5 linked regions of the Homo sapiens genome follow. The gene in region 3 interacts genetically with the main gene of each other region. Each region holds a gene or a part of one and is shown on either strand. Other genes may lie near its edges. The genes, in order: RTF1, FDPS, CCNK, LIAS and NAA25.

Evidence for each region.
Region 1: changes in CCNK (region 3) and RTF1 together harm fitness less than expected from each alone (positive genetic interaction), as found in Homo sapiens cells (one large-scale study listed by BioGRID).
Region 2: changes in CCNK (region 3) and FDPS together harm fitness more than expected from each alone (negative genetic interaction), as found in Homo sapiens cells (one large-scale study listed by BioGRID).
Region 4: changes in CCNK (region 3) and LIAS together harm fitness less than expected from each alone (positive genetic interaction), as found in Homo sapiens cells (one large-scale study listed by BioGRID).
Region 5: changes in CCNK (region 3) and NAA25 together harm fitness less than expected from each alone (positive genetic interaction), as found in Homo sapiens cells (one large-scale study listed by BioGRID).

The regions. Positions count from the first base shown.
Region 1 is NC_000015.10:41,420,080-41,423,597, forward strand, and holds part of RTF1 (RNA polymerase-associated protein RTF1 homolog), read left to right. Parts: intron 1-3,518. UniProt on the Homo sapiens protein: Component of the PAF1 complex (PAF1C) which has multiple functions during transcription by RNA polymerase II and is implicated in regulation of development and maintenance of embryonic stem cell pluripotency.
Region 2 is NC_000001.11:155,315,348-155,318,865, forward strand, and holds part of FDPS (farnesyl pyrophosphate synthase), read left to right. Parts: intron 1-1,506; exon of another isoform or gene 1,507-2,593; coding exon 2,594-2,674; intron 2,675-2,821; coding exon 2,822-2,944; exon of another isoform or gene 2,945-3,049; intron 3,050-3,317; coding exon 3,318-3,406; intron 3,407-3,508; coding exon 3,509-3,518. UniProt on the Homo sapiens protein: Key enzyme in isoprenoid biosynthesis which catalyzes the formation of farnesyl diphosphate (FPP), a precursor for several classes of essential metabolites including sterols, dolichols, carotenoids, and ubiquinones.
Region 3 is NC_000014.9:99,487,906-99,491,423, forward strand, and holds part of CCNK (cyclin-K), read left to right. Parts: intron 1-3,518. UniProt on the Homo sapiens protein: Regulatory subunit of cyclin-dependent kinases that mediates activation of target kinases.
Region 4 is NC_000004.12:39,472,556-39,476,073, reverse strand, and holds part of LIAS (lipoyl synthase, mitochondrial isoform 1 precursor), read right to left. Parts: intron 2,975-3,518; coding exon 2,863-2,974; intron 1-2,862. UniProt on the Homo sapiens protein: Catalyzes the radical-mediated insertion of two sulfur atoms into the C-6 and C-8 positions of the octanoyl moiety bound to the lipoyl domains of lipoate-dependent enzymes, thereby converting the octanoylated domains into lipoylated derivatives.
Region 5 is NC_000012.12:112,042,780-112,046,297, forward strand, and holds part of NAA25 (N-alpha-acetyltransferase 25, NatB auxiliary subunit), read right to left. Parts: exon of another isoform or gene 1,874-3,518; intron 1,090-1,873; coding exon 846-1,089; intron 433-845; coding exon 309-432; intron 1-308. UniProt on the Homo sapiens protein: Non-catalytic subunit of the NatB complex which catalyzes acetylation of the N-terminal methionine residues of peptides beginning with Met-Asp, Met-Glu, Met-Asn and Met-Gln. May play a role in normal cell-cycle progression.

The sequences.
Region 1 (3,518 bases), on a different chromosome or scaffold from region 3:
CAAAGTGCTGGGATTACAGGCATGAGCCACCGTGCTTGGCCGGAATTGCAATTTTAAATCCAATTCTAAATATCTATTTGTAAAAGGAAATTAACATAAAATGTGTAATACCTAATACATTTTAACAACAAATTTAACTTCCTCCCCTTCAGCTTCTTATTTGCATTCTTGTTATCAGATGGGAACTAGATCAAAATTCCCTTTCCCTGCACATCCTAACAGGGGTATTGATGCCTTCAGTTTGTCTGTTCAGCACTATGCCAGACTCTCAGAATAATCAAAGAGGAAGATCTCTGCCCTCTAGACATTTTCACGAAAGACCTTTAGCACAAGTTCACTGTCAGTGCTGCTTGGGGGTCTTTAGGAATCCTAATGCATTCTGGATCTTTCCTGCCCCAAATACCTTGTGCTGCTCCATCTGGTTCTGAGTCTTCACTGGGGGTATAACATTAGACTTGCTGTCTAGCGTATGGTACTTGTGGAAGGAACAAACCATGACAGATCACTGAGTATCTAGTGTGGATTGGAATGCAGTTCGTAAGGAGGCCTTTTGTCCCTGGGTTTTTCAGATGGGAATCTGAGCCATTATGTCAAAAATTTTACCTCCAATTTATTCCTTACTGAAGGTGAGATATATGGGCCTTCTAGGCTGGTTTTTCCTGGTGGTAGGGGCAGACCTCTGTGTCAGAAGCCACCTGGGTTGCTTATTTAAAATGTAGGTTGGGACTTAGAGGGTGCAGCAGTTCCCATCCTAGACCTACTGAATCAGACTCTCAGGGGATAGAGGTCTGGACTCTGCATTTGTAACAGGTATAGCTCAAGTAATTATGATTTATGTTAGTGATTAAGATCACTGCCTATATGCAGGTTAATCTTTTTAGTAACACACTATAAGTATTTAGAAGAGAAATAGCTTCCTGTGTCTGCCATAGTACTTCCAAATTAAGCGTACATGTATAGGCTGGGCATGGTGGCTCATGCCCTGTAATCTCAGCACTTTGGGAGGCCAAAGTGGGAGGAACACTTGAGCCCAGGTGTTTGAGATCAGCGTAGGCAACAAAGTGAGACCTCATCTGTACAAAGACTTTAAAAATTGGCCAGGTGCAGTGGCTCATACCTGTAATCCCAGCACTTTGGGAGGCCGAGGTGGGCGGATCACCTGAGGTTGGGAGTTTGAGACCAGCCTGACCAACATGGAGAAACCTCGTCTCTACTAAAAATACAAAATTAGCCAGGCATGGTGGTGCTTGCCTGTAATCCCAGTTACTCAGAAGGCTGAGGCAGGAGAATCACTTGAACCCAGGAGGTGGAGGCTGTGGTGAGCCGAGATCGTGCCATTGCACTCCAGCCTGGGAAACAAGAGTGAAACTCTGTATTAAAAAAAAAAAAAAAAGAATTTAAAAATTAGCTGGGCATGGTGGCGTGCCTCTAGTCTCAGCTACTTGGGAGTCTGGGGTGGGAGGATTGCTTGAGCCTGGGAGGTTGAAGTTGCAGTTACTTGTGGTCCCACCGTTTCTCTTCAGCCCAGGTAACAGAGTGAGACCCTGTCCCAAAGAAAAAAAAAAAAAAGGCACTTGTATAACTAAAAGAACTTGACAGGGAGGTTTTAAGATGGCAAAACTACTGGTTCTTTTTTTTTTTTTTTTTAGGCAGGGTTTCACTCCTGTCACCCAGGCTGGAGTGCAGTGGCACAATTACAGCTCACGGCTGTAGCGTTGACCTCCCTAGCTCAGTGATCCTTCCCCCTCAGCCTCTCAAGTAGCTGGGACTACAGGTGTGCACCACCACACCCAGCTAATTTTTAAAATCATTTGTAGAGATGGGGGTCCCACTACATTGCCTAGGCTAGTCTGAAACTCCTGGGCTTGGGTGATTCTCAGGCTTTGGCCTCCCAAAGTGCTGGAATTACAGGTGTGAGCTGCCACACCAGGCCTTATTTATTTATTTGTTTGTTTGTTTATTTATTTATTTTTGAGATGGAGTCTCACTCTATCGCCCAGACTGGAGTACAATAGCACGATCTCGACTCACTGCACCTTCCACCTCCTGGGTTCAAGCAATTCTCCTGCCTCAGCCTCCTGGGTAGCTGAGATTACAGGCGCCTGCCACCACACCTGGCTAATTTTTTGTATTTTCAGTAGAGACGCTATGTTGGCCAGACTGGTCTCTAACTCCTGGCCTCAGGTGATCCAGCACCTGGCCTTATTTTAACCTTTGAAAGTTTTTAAAACTAAGACCTAGTTTGAGAGTTTGAAAGCTTTTCTTTTAGCATTTGACCTGATAGTGACTCTGTCCTTATTTTGACCACACCCTTTCTTCAACATTTTTAAATTTCAAGATACTTGCTGTTGGTGCCTATTGGGAAATAATAATTTGAGGCAAACCTCTGGGCTCTATGTCATCTCCCTTTATGGAATAATATTTATGCAGTAAGTCCTATAAAATGAAAAGCATTCAAGATAATAAAGGAACCAGAGTTCTCAATTCAAATCAGTACAACTCCGTATTTATAAAAATTTTACTCTACCTTTCTAAAAAACTAAAAATTGAGCTATGTGCACACTGGGATGCTTTATTTTATAGGTTTCTTATTTAAAATGGAGATTATATTGTCATGTCCTGTTTTTCTCTGTTTATCTAACTTGAAGTAGCAATAATTAAATTTGTCTTTGAGAGAATAGGCCCCCCTAAGTATTTTCTTTTTTCTTTTTTTTGAGACGGAGTCTCGCTCTGTCACCCAGGCTGGAGTGCAGTGGCGCGATCTTGGCTCCTGCAGCCTCCGCCTCCCGGGTTCAAACAATTCTCTGCCTCAGCCTTCCGAGTAGCTTGGATTACAGGCGCACGCCACCACGTCCAGCTAATTTTTGTATTTTTAGTAGAGACGGGGTTTCACCATCTTGGCCAGGCTGGTCTTGAACTCCTGACCTCGTGATCCACCCTCCTCGGCCTCCCAAAGTGTTGGGATTACAGGCGTGAACCACCGTGCCCGGCCAGCCCTGTAAGTATTTTCTAGGAGCTGTTTTTAGATACTACATGTAAAGAATATTATTATTATAAAGTATACTTCTATAAACCTTCCCCATAAATCTTGAGAAATTTAAAAGTTGTGCTTCTTGTTAATGTAGTGTTTTCCGCATTAATCAGAGGCAAATTTTGAAGTGTAGGAAGAGTTTGTGAGAAGTGTCAGTGTTAATTTGTGAAAACTTTAATTTGTGTCATGTTGCATCTAGCTTGATGTAATTCGCTTGTTAATTTCACTCTTTTCAAAGAGTGAGTCCCATGGGAGCTCCCTCCCCACCCAGCCCCCACCCAAGATGGAGTCTTGCTCTGTCACCCAGGCTGGAGAGCAATGGCACGCTGGGCTCACTGTAGCCTCCGCCTCTAGGTTCAAGTGATTCTCCTGCCTTAGCCTCCCGAGTAGCTGGGATGACAGGCACGCGCCACCACTCCCGGCTAATTTTACATTTTTATTAGAGATGGGGTTTCTCCATGTTGGTCAGTCTGGTCTCAAACTCCCG
Region 2 (3,518 bases), on a different chromosome or scaffold from region 3:
CAGCCTGACCAACATGGGGAAACCCCATCTCTACTGAAAATACAAAATTAGGCTGGGCGCAGTGGCTCATGCCTGTAATCCCAGCACTTTGGGAGGCTGAGGCGGGCGGATCATGAAGTCAGGAGATCGAGACCATCCTGGCTAACATGGTGAAACCCCGTCTCTACTAAGAATACAAAAAAAATATTAGCCGGGCATGGTGGCAGGCGCCTGTAGTCCCAGCTATTTGGGAGGCTGAGGTAGGAGAATGGCGTGAACCTGGGAGGCGGAGCTTGCAGTGAGCTGAGATTGTGCCACTGCACTCCAGCCTGGGCAACAAGAGCGAGACTCTGTCTCAAAAAAAAACAAAAAACAAAAAACAAAAAAAAAATTAGCCAGGCGTGGAGGCACATGCCTATAATCCCAGCTACTCAGGAGGCTGAGGCAGGAAAATCGCTTGAACCCGGGAGGCGGAGGTTGCAGTGAGCCAAGATCGCGCTATTGCACTCCAGCCTGGGCAACAAGAGCGAAACTCCATCTCAAAAAAAAAAAAACACACAAACCATGTCTTCTGCTCAAGCCTGGGTGACAGAGTGAGATCCTGTCTCAAAAGAAAATAATAATAAAAATTAAAACCTGGGTATAGGGCCGGGTGCATTGGCTCACACTTAAAATCCCAGCACTTTGGGAGGCCAAGGTGGATGGATCACGTGAGGTCAGGAGTTCGAGACCAGCCTGACCAACATGGTGAAACCTTGTCTCTACTAAAAACACAAAAATTAGCCGGGTGTGATGGCACGTGCCTGTAATCCCAGCTACTTGGGAGGCTGAGGCAGGAGAATCGCGTGAACCCGGGAGGCGGAGGTTGCAGTGAGCCGAGATTGCGCCATTGCACTCCAGCCTGGACAATGAGAGTGAAACTCCATCTCAAAAACAAAAACCTGGGTATGTATCTAGAAGTGGAAAAACAAAAAAAGGAAATAAGTTATGAAAATAAAAACCATGTCTTGAGCTGGGTGCGCTGGTGTGTGCCTATATCCCTAGATTCTCAAGAGTTGAGACAGGAGGATCACTTGAGCCCAGGAGTTCAAGTCCAACTTGGGCAACATGACAAGACCCTTGTCTCTTTAAAAAAGCAACCCAAACCATGTCTTGAAAAGCTATTTAATGGTCAGACACGATGGCTCACGCCTGTAATCCCAGCACTTTGGGAGGCCGAGGCAGGCGGATCACTTGAGGTCAGGAGTTCAAGACCAGCCTGGCCAACATGGCAAAACCCAGTCTCTACTGAATGAAAATACAAAAATTAGCTGGCCTAGCAGTTGGTGGTGGCAGGTGCCTGTAGTCCCAGCTACTTGGGAGGCTGAGGCAGGAGAATCGCTTGAATTTGGGAGGCGGAGGTTACAGTGAACCCACATGGCGCCACTGCACTCCAGCTTGGGTGATAGAGTGAGACTCTATCTCAAAAAAAAAAAAAAAGAAAAGCTATTTAAGGAACCAAAACATAGTTTGACTGACTGCAAGAAGTATCACAGGGAATGTTAGAGTGTTTTATTAATTTCTTTGTCAGACAAGTGTTTAGGAAACTCTCACTCCAGGCCTAATGCTGTGCTAGGCTCTGCAAATGCTAAGAGGGGGAAGTTACTGTCCCTGCTTCCAAGGAGATCATGGTCTAGTGGGAAACCCGACACGTTCAGGTACCTTCAGATGGGCACTCAGAAGAGTAAGCCCTTAGTTAATGTTTAAAGATGTTTAAAGATGTCTGAGACTCATAGGTCAAAGTCAGATTTCAGTTCCACCTTATTAGACCTGCACTGCTAAGGAGCTGCTTTAGGTAAGGCTGTGTTCCTAGTCACCAGGGTGTTCAAACACAGTGCTGGGGGCAATGTGGGAATAGCCTTCTTTTATTTAGGAAGTAATGTGAAGTCAGTTTCATGAATAGATCTTACTTTAAGCATTCATTGAGGTTTTTGGCAAGAATAGAGTACGGTATATGAAGGTGTTTCCTAATCTCCCTGACACCAGGAATAATCTAGGGCTCATTAGAGATGTCAAAGATCTGTTCTAGTTTCTTAACCTAAAACAAGAGTGTTTTAGTTCCATTTTATAGGCGGGGAGTCTGAGCCAAACATGTTATGTCACTTTCCAAGTCTCCATAGCACAGAAGTCTTCTGTCTCCCCATCCTGACTTTCCCAGCTCATAGGGACTGTCAAAGGCAGCAGCTCTGGCCGGCTGTGATGCCTCATGCCTGTAATCCCAGTAATTTGGGAGGCTGAGGCAGGAGGATCATTTGAACCCAGGGGTTCAAAACCAGCCTGAGCAACATAGTGGGACCCTGTCTCTACAAAAAATAAATTAAAAAAAAAAAATAGCCAGGCATGGGGTATGTGCCTATGGTCTCAGGAACTCAGGAAGCTGAAGTGGGAGGATCACTTGAGCCTGGGAGTTAGAGGCTACAGTGAGCTGTGACTGCACCACTGCACTGGATAATAGTGAGACTCTGTCCCCTACCAAAAAAAAGCAAAACTATATACAGATATAAAGTAGCAGCTCTGTTGCTGATAGAAGGAACAGTAATGAGGAGCCCTGCAGGTCTTATTCCACTCTTTCTAGCTGCAAGCTTTCTTCCTGGTGGCAGATGACATCATGGATTCATCCCTTACCCGCCGGGGACAGATCTGCTGGTATCAGAAGGTAATGTGGGCAGGAAAATAGCAGTGGGTATGGGGACAGGCCACAGGGAGGTGGTTATATATGGCCTGGTTGAGGTGTTGGGGTGATGGCTCTTAGTATGAACCGAGACTAGAGATTGATTGCTTGTTTTTCTGTCTGTCATGACAGCCGGGCGTGGGTTTGGATGCCATCAATGATGCTAACCTCCTGGAAGCATGTATCTACCGCCTGCTGAAGCTCTATTGCCGGGAGCAGCCCTATTACCTGAACCTGATCGAGCTCTTCCTGCAGGTGTATTGCAGACAGGGCCCGATGCCCAGAGGGTGCCCATGGTAGCCTTGGCCTCTATAGGACATGCTCATCTAGCTGGTTTCAGGGTACAGGATTGCAGCGTGCCTGGAAGGGAAAGAAAGCGAGGAAGGGTGTTGGGAAGTGGGGTTGTGGTAGTGGCAAGAAAGGGCTTCTCTGTCCTGTGTAATTGGAAGAAAGGGTGATAAAGGACTGTGTGTATGAATATGGGCCTTAAGTTTTGGGGCTTTCTCCCCTTCTGTTGCCTTTCTGATTCTGCCCAGTTGTCAGCTGGTATGGGATGTTGGGCTTGGGATACCAGGGTTTCGCATATCTGGAGAAAGCCTGGCTCATGGACCGTCTTTGTCTTGCTTAGAGTTCCTATCAGACTGAGATTGGGCAGACCCTGGACCTCCTCACAGCCCCCCAGGGCAATGTGGATCTTGTCAGATTCACTGAAAAGAGGTGAGGGGAGGTGAGGGACAGCGCGAACCATGTCTGGACAGCGAGGGAGGGCTCAGGATGTGCATTGCCCTCCTGAGGAGTTTCTCTTCTCCCCTTACTCAGGTACAAATCT
Region 3 (3,518 bases):
AGGGATTGATGAAGATAAGGAGTCCTCCTGGTCTCCTATTCAGTCTCATCTGACTTTTTCCCCAACTTTTTATTGTATGAAAGAATAGTGCAATGACAACTTATTTACCTGTGGACACATGTTCGTTTTTTGCCATGTTTACTGTGTGGTTGTGTTTTAGCTGAACCATTTGAAAGTAGGTTGCAGACATCATGACACTTTACCCAAAATACTTCAGCCTTCATCTGCTAAGAATAAAGTCATTCTCCTGTGTAATCACAATATCATTATTACCCCCAAAGAAAATTAACTGACAGTAATTCCCTCCCTAATACCCTCTAATATACAATTTATACTTAAATTTTTCCAAATTGTTTGAAATTTCTTTTTTTTAAAAAAAAAAAAAAAGCAGGATCTAATCAAGGTTCACACATTGCATTTTGTTGTAGCCCTCTTTAGCCTTTTTAAATCTAAGACAGTCTCTCAAAATGTTTTTTCATAACACTGTTTTGAAGAGACCGGGTCAGTTGTTGAGTAGAGTGTCTCACCTTCTGGATGTGACTGATAGTTTCCATGTTGTGCTTTTTTCACTTACTCTTGTACCACCAGTATTTATTGTAAACTGGAAGTTCGGTCAAAAGTTTGCTTAAATTTAGGTTAAGCTTTTGGGGGACAAGAATACTACATAGGTAGGTGATATTTATTTCACATTGCATCACATCAGAAGCCATGTAATGTCAGGTTTTCACCCTATTAGTGATGTCAAGTGTGATCATTTTGTTAAGGATCAACTGTATTTTTTTTACAGTAGTTAATATCCATGCTAGCAAAGTCGCATTTATTATCAGTAGCATTTTATTATCAGTAGTTATCAGTGCTAGCAAAGTATTATTCTCTATATGTATTAATATTATGGACACTTGGATTGTATGTTCACTATTTTATGATCAACCACAGTTATTTTTCTTTTTGCTATTCAAATTACCTTGGATTAGTCCAGTGGGCACCCATCATGGTGGCTCCTATGTCTTTTTTTTTTTTTTCCCTAGCAAATCATTCCTTCAGCAGTCCTATGTCTTTTGATAAGCTTTGATTAGTCTGAGTACATCCCAGGCAGGCTCCAACCCCAGACTGGAAAGAAACCTGCTTCCTTTTAGAGGGTATTGGTATTGAAAAAGTTAAGATTTCAGAATTAGGAGTGTCATTCCTTCTTGGTACTTGAAAAGGACAGAAATGGGATACATATATATATATTTTTTTTTAACCATGATTTATTTTGATATCTTCAGTTAAAGTTTAACATTACAGATTTGTTTCTTAACATTTGGTTTTCTGCATGTGTGCATTTGTTTTCTTTGCACTGAAAATCTTGGTTCCTAACAACATTAGCATTTACATATTTGCTTTATTCCACAACATGCAAAAAAAAATGTGTTTGAAAATTACAACATTAATGACACTACTAACAGTACACTAATGAAGTTTTAAAATTTCGTTGGGGCCAGCCACTGTGGCTCATACCCATAATCCTAGCACTTTGGGAGGCTAGGCGGGAGGATCGCTTGAGGCCAGGAGTTCGATGCTGCAGTGAACTAGGATCATGCCACTGCACTTATAGCCTGGGTGACAGAACAAGACTCTGACTCTAAAATAAGTAAGTAAGTAAATAAATAAACAAATAAATAATTCTTTTCAGTTATTTTTGTCCTTAGAATATATCTCACTAAGCATGTAACAATATCAGAAATTACTTGGAAGTAAGTTTCTGTGTGATTTTGTTGCCCATTTGGTTTGAGTTTTAGGATTTGCTTTTTTATTTTTAGTTAAGTGTATGAGTATGTTAAATATTTACATGATTCAAACATCAAAGTTATAAAAGTACTCTGCAGGGAGTCAAGCTGAAAGAGCACCTAATGGCCACATTGGAATAATTTGAGCAACAAAATAAATAATGATAGTATTGGATTATAACCCAAAGAATAAAATACTCATGTCTGTACTAAAGTAAATAAACAAATGGGAGAGAAGAAACAAATATTAACAAAATGATTCCAAATAATAAATGTTGAAGCAGTGAAGGAAATAGAAAGTCACCATTAGAACACCACAGTTGTAATCGTCTCAGGTGAATGCTAAAATTAGTAGATGAAACTTGAAGGAGAAATAGACATTTGTATAGTATTTTGCATTGTAAAATATTTCCCCCAAAATATTTACTTACTAGTGGGTGGTTTTAACATATGTCCACAATTTCTTTGATATCTCTGCCTCCAGAAAGTAGAGCTTAATTCCTTTACCCTTGAGTGTGGGCTGGACCTCGTGACTTGCATCTAAGGAATAGAAGATAGGAAGGGAAAAATAATAATTTACAGTGAGAAACCTGGTAGACTCCATCTTAACCAAGAGCTCATGGTTAACAGCAGTAAGTTGTTCTGATATCACCTGCACCCAAATATGATGTGTAGTTAATAGTGGTTATACCAAAGTTAATTTCTTTTTTTGGATAAATGAACCATGGTTATGGAAGATGTTTACATTGGGGAAGCTAAGTGAAGGGTATAGACAAAACTCATCTATCTTTACAGCTCTTCTGTAAACGTACAATTAGTTTAAAATAAAAGCTTTCATAAAAAGGCAAAGCTGTATAAAAAGATATATACATAGAGAAGTCTTGTTTCCATTCCTGTCTTTTCCATCCTGTTTTTCCCCATTCCTTATTGGTAAATATTTTTTGAATTACTTTAAAAAAATAGAGATGTCTGGCTGGGCGCGGTGGCTCACACCTGTAATTCCAGCACTTTGGGAGGCCGAGGCAGGCGGATCACGAGGTCAGGAGCTCCAGACCATCCCGGCTAACACGGCGAAACCCCATCTCTACTAAAAATACAAAAAAATTAGCCAGGCGTGGTGGCGGGCGCCTGTAGTCCCAGCTACTCGGGAGGCTGAGGCAGGAGAATGGCGTAAACCCAGGAGGTGGAGCTTGCAGTGAGCCGAGATCATGCCACTGGCACTCCAGCCTGGGCAACAGAGCAAGACTCCGTCTCAAAAAAAAAAAAAAAAAGAGATGTCTGTTTTTTCCCCTCCTTTCTTACATAGATGCTAACATACTGTGTACACTATCCTATACCTTGCTGATCTGGAAATTTCTCCATCCAGTACTTAACGATGTTTCTCATTCTTTTTAATAGCTGTGGGGTATGCTATTGTGTGCATGTGTCATATTTTACTCAGCCAGTCCCCTGATGATGGGCGTTTGGGTTGTTCATAGTTTTGCCATTATAAATAACACTACAGTGAATAATCTTGTGCACATGTTGTTTCATAGTTGTGACATTTCATAGTTAGGACAATATTTTCAGAGTCGATTCCCAGCAGTGGGAATCCTGGGTCAAAGAGCAAATGCATGTGTAATTTTGTTGGATATCGTCAACTTCTCTGTGACAGTTGGACCATTTTGTACTCCCACCAGAAGCTTATAAGATCACCTGCTTCTCTATAGCTTTGCCAACAGAGCAAATTGTCAAACTTTGGGATTTTTG
Region 4 (3,518 bases), on a different chromosome or scaffold from region 3:
ATAGTGGTTCTATCCTTCACATGTATTTTTAGCTTGCCAGCAGTGCTGCTTGAAGACTAAATCACTTACAATTACTGGTTTTCAAAGTCCCCACATTCTGTCACTCAGTGCTGAATCAAATTCTTGGGTTTTCAAACTATGATGAGCTACTAGTTCATTAAAATGTTTTAAATTACTATTTTTATTTATTTATTTTTGAGACGGGGTCTCATTCTGTCACCCAGGCTGGAGTGCAGTGGCACGATCACAGCTCACTGCAGCCTCAACCTCCTGGGCTCAGGTGATCCTCCCACCTCAACCTCCTGGGTAGCTAGAACTAGAGGTGCCCACCACCACCCAGCAACTCAGCCACCCAGCTAATTTTTGTATTTTTGTAGAGATGGGGTTTTGCCATGTTGCCCAGGCTGGTCTTGAACTCCTGGGCTCAAGTGATCCACCCGCCTCGGCCTCCCAAAGTGCTAGGAGTACAGGCGTGAGCCACTGCACCCGGCCTTAAATGTCTTTATAGGAACTAGGAACATACAGAATATTACTAATACTGGAGCATTAATTTTTTCAAATAGAATTTGTCTAATTTAAACATATTTAAGATTTAGACCCCAATATATAAAGCAATCATTTAAAACATCACCACTTTAGATAAAAAAAAAAAATACCTAGTTTATTTATTTATTTACTTATTTATTTATTTTTGAGACAGAGTCTTGCTCTGTTGCCCAGACTGGAGTGCAGTGGCATGATCTTGGCTCACCACAACCTCTGTCTCTCGGGTTCAAGCAATTTTCCTGCCTCAGCCTCCCAAGTAGCTGGGACTACAGGCACACACCACCATGCCCGGCTAATTTTTGTATATATATTTTTTCTTTTGGAGACAGAGTGTTGCTCTTTCGCCAGGCTGGAGTGGAGTGGCAGGATCTTGGCTCACTGCAACCTCTGCCTCCCAGGTTCAAGCTATTCTCTTGCCTCAGCCTCCCGAGTAGCTGGGACTACAGGTGCGCAGCACCATGCCCAGCTAATTTTTGTATTTTTAGTAGAGATGGGGTTTCACCATGTTGGCCAGGATGATCTCAATCTCTTGACCTTGTGATCTGCCCACCTCGGCCTCCCAAAGTGTTGGGATTTCAGGCATTAGCCACCACGCCTGGCCAATACCTAGTTTATTTTTAAAGAGACAAGGTCAGCCGGGTGCGGTGGCTCACACCTGTAATCCCAGCACTTTGGGAGGCCCAGGTGGGCGGATCACAAGGTCAGGAGATCGAGGTCATCCTGGCTAACACGGTGAAACCCCGTCTCTACTAAAAATACAAAAAATTAGCCAGGCGTGGTGGCGGGCACCTGTAGTCCCAGCTACTCAGGAGGCTGAGGCAGGAGAATGCCGTGAACCTGAGAGGCAGAGGTTGCAGTGAGTCAAGATTGTGCCACTGCACTCCAGCCTGGGCGATGGAGAGAGACTGCATCTAAAAAAAAAATAATAATAATAAAATAAAAAATAAAGAGATGAGATCTCACAATGTTGCTCAGGCTGTATTTGAACTCCTGGGCCCATGCGATCCTCCTGCCTCGGTCTCCCAAGAAGTTGGGACTATAGGCACACACCACCACACCTGGCCTAGCTGTTTCTTTTTTTTATTTTATTTTTGAGACACAGTGTCTTGCTCTGTCACCCAGGCTGGAGCTGTAGTGACACGATCATAGCTCACTGCATCCTTGAACTCCTAGGCTCAAGTAATCCAACTGCCTTCCAAAGTGCTGGGATTACAGGCATGAGCCACCTTGCCTGGCCTATTTATTCTTTTTTTTTTTTTTTTTTTGAGACAGAGTCTTGCTCTGTTGCCCAGGCTGGAGTGCAGTGGCACAATCTCGGCTCACTGCAAGCTCGGCCTCCTGGGTTCATGCCATTCTGCTGCCTCAGCCTCCCGAGTAGCTGGGACTGCAGGTGCCCGCCACCATGCCCGGCTAATTTTTTTGTATTTTTAGTGGAGAGGGTTTCACCGTGTTAGCCAGGATGGTCTCGATCTCCTGACCTCGTGATTTGCCCGCCTCAGCCTCCCAAAGTGCTGGGATTACAGGTGTGAGCCACCCCACCTGGCCAGCCAATTTATTCTTAATCATTATAATTGTTAAGTCCAACTGACAGGGACATCATAAACACTTTCTAGATTAAATTCGGTCTTCAGATATGTTCTTTTGGATCCTCCGACAATCATTATCACATGACTTTTTATCCCTTGGAAAATGATTTTCTTTTCATAAATCAATTCAAGCTATTGATTAAAATAAGAGCTGAAATTCCAAAAGTAAAAAAAATTTGCATTGTAGCTAGTAAAACAACTAAACGTTCCTACGGAGAAAAATAATCTTATGGATATTTTTCTGTTGCCTCTGGGGGAAAAATACAAAGAAATTTAATGATGCAAGCAATGCTATCAAATAAGATACTTTTCAGTGCTTAAACTGATTGAAACTGAGTCTGGAGATGCAGCTGGCATCATTTCCAAATAAATATGTATTTCTCAGAAAACCCTATTAGATGCTTGACATGCTCTGTCATTTCTGAATAACCTACTACTGAAATCTACACATAGAAAAAATTAATAAACTAATTGTTTCTGCTTTTACTATAGTAGCTGAGTTACAAAGCAGGGGGCTGAATTTGTTTAAGAAACAAAAGATTAAGAGAAACTTTTCTTAATATGATCCCCATGGAGCAAAGCTCCTAAGGATGTTCCAGAAGAAAAACTACGCCCTCTACCAAGACCACCAAAGGTATTAGAATTTGTCAAGAGTTTTAGTGACTGGTGGTAGAACTTAATGTGGAAAGTTAACGGCCTAAATGAAACCATGCCCCACAATCTAACTTACCTGCTTTATATGAAGAACGCACCAAAGGGCCACTTGCAGTATAATGAAATCCAAGTTCATTTCCTACTTTTTCCCAGTATTTGAATTTTTCAGGAGTAATATATTCTTCAACCTAGATTTAAATAATTACTTCTGATCAGATTTTAGAATTCCACTTTGATTCTGCAGAAAGTCTATACCTATGTATGCAGAATGCTCTTCACTGCGTAATTTATCTTGCCCCCACCCCCAGGCTTTTGTCCTCTCCCTCCTCCCTGACTACGTGTTTACTGGTTACTTTTTGGCCACTCTATTGGGATGTAAATACAGGGAATTACAGAGACAGGGAAGCATATCAATTTTGTGCTACAATGGCTATTCCAAAGGACAGAGAAAGAAGAGATTATCTACAGATATTATTTATCTATATTTTTCCTTCGTTAACAGCTAAATTCAAGAATTACTCATGCTTATCTGATTCTTGAGGACAAGACTGTCTTACTCAACTTGTATCTTCTGCTTAGCACTGTGACTGGCACATGGTCACTGCTCAACACAAGCTTCTTGAATGAATGGATAAATGTCCATGATAGAAATAGAAAGAATGGTTTCCCATTCTTTCTTCGCCTCTGGCTCTAACATAACAAAAACAAGTTACACAATAACCAAGTGTAAAT
Region 5 (3,518 bases), on a different chromosome or scaffold from region 3:
TACAGGCGTGAGCCACTGCGCCCAGCCTACTGCTTCATTTTTAAAATCCAACAGCCTTTCAACAAATGAAGAATTTCTTCAACTTTTGGACCTAACAAGTGATTTTAAATATGGAATGGACTTAAGCTTCTAAAACATTACTTTGTAACCTACGACTGTACCCTCTCATACACTACACCACACATTTGCAGAACAGCTTCCAGCTTCCATGTACTCTAAAATTTTCCAGATGTGAGGTTATAGACATTTTATTACGTGTACTACATTTTCTATGACAAAGACCCTATAAACACACAGTGTACACTTACCTAAACCACTGGTATCCAGCTCATAAATATCATTGACAAGATAAAAAGAGCTTATCTGGCACTGAGAACAGCCAGAATTAAAGAATCCACCCATTCTGGTAGGTACAGGACCAAGGAAAGGATACTGGAAAAAAGGGAGAAAAATAATGCTCTTTTAAATCCATCTAAATGCATACAAAATAAGAAAATCAGGTAACTAGTAGATAAAAACCTGTCTCAGCGGTTCAGCTAAAAGCCACTAATCAGCAAACTAATAACTGAATCATTACAGTAAAAACAGAACATTTATATTAATTTGTTGCTAGCTATTAAAAACTTAACACCACAAAAAGTTATTTTGCTTTCTCCCTCACTAGTCTGGATATTGAGGAAGCCTCTGCAATTCCCTCTGAGTCTAAAATATTCCTCTTTCTCCTGCAGAAGCCATAAACTGGGACAAAACAATTCCTTACTACTCACCCACCCCAAACTCCTGTTTATAAAACAGTCATAAATATAATTATTGCAACTTTGATGGTAAATATGTATTGATGGTACCTGAATATCCTTCTCAATAAATCGCTTTCCTGTCTCCAGGGTTGCCTCCAGCTGTTGAAGGAGCAAACGAAGAATATCAATCCGGGAGGATACCCCATTCTCGGCAGTCTTCTCCGAGTTCTTTGGCTCCACAGGGTGGTTGAGACTTGGAAGTCCACTTATCAGCCTCAATGTTAAGGATCGGATTCTTAACCACAAGGTCTCCTCCTCTAAGGAAAGTTTCTTATGTTCTTCAGAAACGTCCCTTAAACAGAAACATCCCCAAATTATCTAACTTATTCAATATTCAATCCATTGCTTTCAATTTTTTTTTTTTTTTTTGAGACAGAGTCTTGATCTGTCGCCCAGGCTGGAGTGCAGTGGCACTATCTCTGCTCACTGCAAGCTCTGCCTCCCAGGTTCATGCCATTCTCCTGCCTCAGCCTCCCAAGTAGCTGGGCCTACAGGCGCCTGCCACCACGCCCGGCTAATTTTTTTTTTGTATTTTTAGTAGAGACGGGTTTTCACCGTGTTAGCCAGGATGGTCTTGATCTCCTGACCTCGTGATCTGCCTGCCTTGGCCTCCCAAAATGCTGGGATTACAGGCGTCAGCTACCGCGCCTGGCCTCAAATCATTTAAAGTTAACTTTCACCAGTTAAGATGCCTTTGAAGGGTTCCAGCTTTCATTTACTAGCTGAATGACCTAAGACAAGCCAAAATGTTCTCAAACCCCATTTCACTATCAATAAAATGGGAATGATAACCTATTTAACAGGTCATTTTTGGCTGGGCACGGTGCCTCACACCTGTTATCCCAGCACTTTGGAAGGCCGAGGTGGGCAGATCACGAGGTCAGGAGATCGAGATCATCCTGACTAATACGGTGAAACCCCGTCTCTACTAAAAATACAAAAAATTAGCCGGGCGTGGTGGTGGGCGCCTGTAGTCCCAGCTACTCAGGAGGCTGAGACAGGAGAATGGCATGAACCAGGGAGGCGGAGCTTGCAGTGAGCCAAGATTGCACCACTGCACTCCAGCCTGGGCGACAGAGCAAGACTCCATCTCAAAACAAAACAAAACAAAACAAAACAAAAAAAACAGGTCATTTTCCTTATAAGTGACACTTTGTTCTCTGATTATAAAAATAATACATGAGGACAGGTGTGGTGGCTCACACCTGTAATCCCAGCACTTTGGGAAGCTGAGGTGAGAGACTGCTTGAGGCCAGGAGTTGGAGAACAGCCTGGTAAACATAGCAAGACCCAGTCTCTAAAAAAAAAAAAAAAAAAATACAAAAAATTGGCTGGACGTGGTGGCACACACCTGTAGTCCCAGCTACTAGGGAGGCTGAGATTGGAGGATTGCTTGAGCCCAGGAGTTCAAGGCTGCAGTGAGATATGGTCACGCCACTGTACTCCAGCCTGGGTAAGATCCTGTCTCTAATAAAAATAATACACAACATAAAAAATGCAAATGATAGAAAAATGTAAAACGTAGAAAAGGTGCCCTGATAACCAATACTCACAGTATTATCAAGTTTGGTATAGATCTTTTTAGACTTTTGTAATGTGGATGTATAAAAGTCTAACTAAAAATAGCGGGTGTGGCCCGGTGCAGTGGCTAACGCCTGTAATCCCAGCACTTCGGGAGGCCGAGGCAGGCAGATCATGAGGTCAGGAGATCGAGACCATCCTGGCTAACACAGTAAAATCCCATCTCTATTAAAAATACAAAAAAAATTAGCCGGCCGTGGTGGCACACGCCTGTAGTCCCAGCTGAGGCTAAGGCAGGAGAATTGCTTGAACCCGGGAGGCGGAGGTTGCAGTGAGCCGAGATTGCGCCACCGCACTCCAGCCTGGACGACAGAGTGAGACTCCATCACAAAAAAAAAAAAAAAAAAAAAATAGGGGCTGGTTGCGATAGCTCACACCTATAATCACAGCACTTTGAGTGGCCCAGATGGGGGGATCAACAGAGGTCATGAGTTTGAGATCAGCCTGGCCAACATGGCAAAACCCCATCTCTACTAAAAATACAAAAATTAGCCGGGCGTGGTGGCAGGGACCTGTAATCCCAGCTACTTGGGAGGCTGAGGCAGGAGAATCCCTTGAACCCAGGAGGTGGGGGTTGCAGTGAGCCGAGATCATGCGACTGCACTCTAGCCTGGGCGACAGAGACAGACTAGGTCTCAAAAATAAAAAGTAACTAAAAATAATACTTACACAACTTAACAATTTTAAACAAATTGGTTACAGTATGCAACAGAGGCTCCATCTAAAAAAAAAAGTAACTAAAAATAGTATGTATGCAACTTAAGTTTAAACAAATTGGTTACAGTAATTACATTATTTTGCAAACTTCATCTTTTTATGACAGTATGTGTAGAAAAGAGTTAACATAGCAGGCCTGCAGCTATTATCGTTAGAAAGGCCTACTTGCAAGGTTGGCCCTTGGCTGATGTCTGGGAACTTTGCACTCCAACTGTTCCCTAAAATGGTAAGAGTGACTCGCTGTGCCTAGATTGTTTATATAAACCATGTTGTTTATGGTGAATACCTGCTTTCTTTCCACTCAGGATAGACAGAGTGTACCCACATAACAATGAAACCTTAAGCACCAAGTCTCTACTGGGTTTCCCTGAGCAGGAACATTCCACCTGTGTTACTGCATTTTTCCCTGCTGGAGAAAGGAGC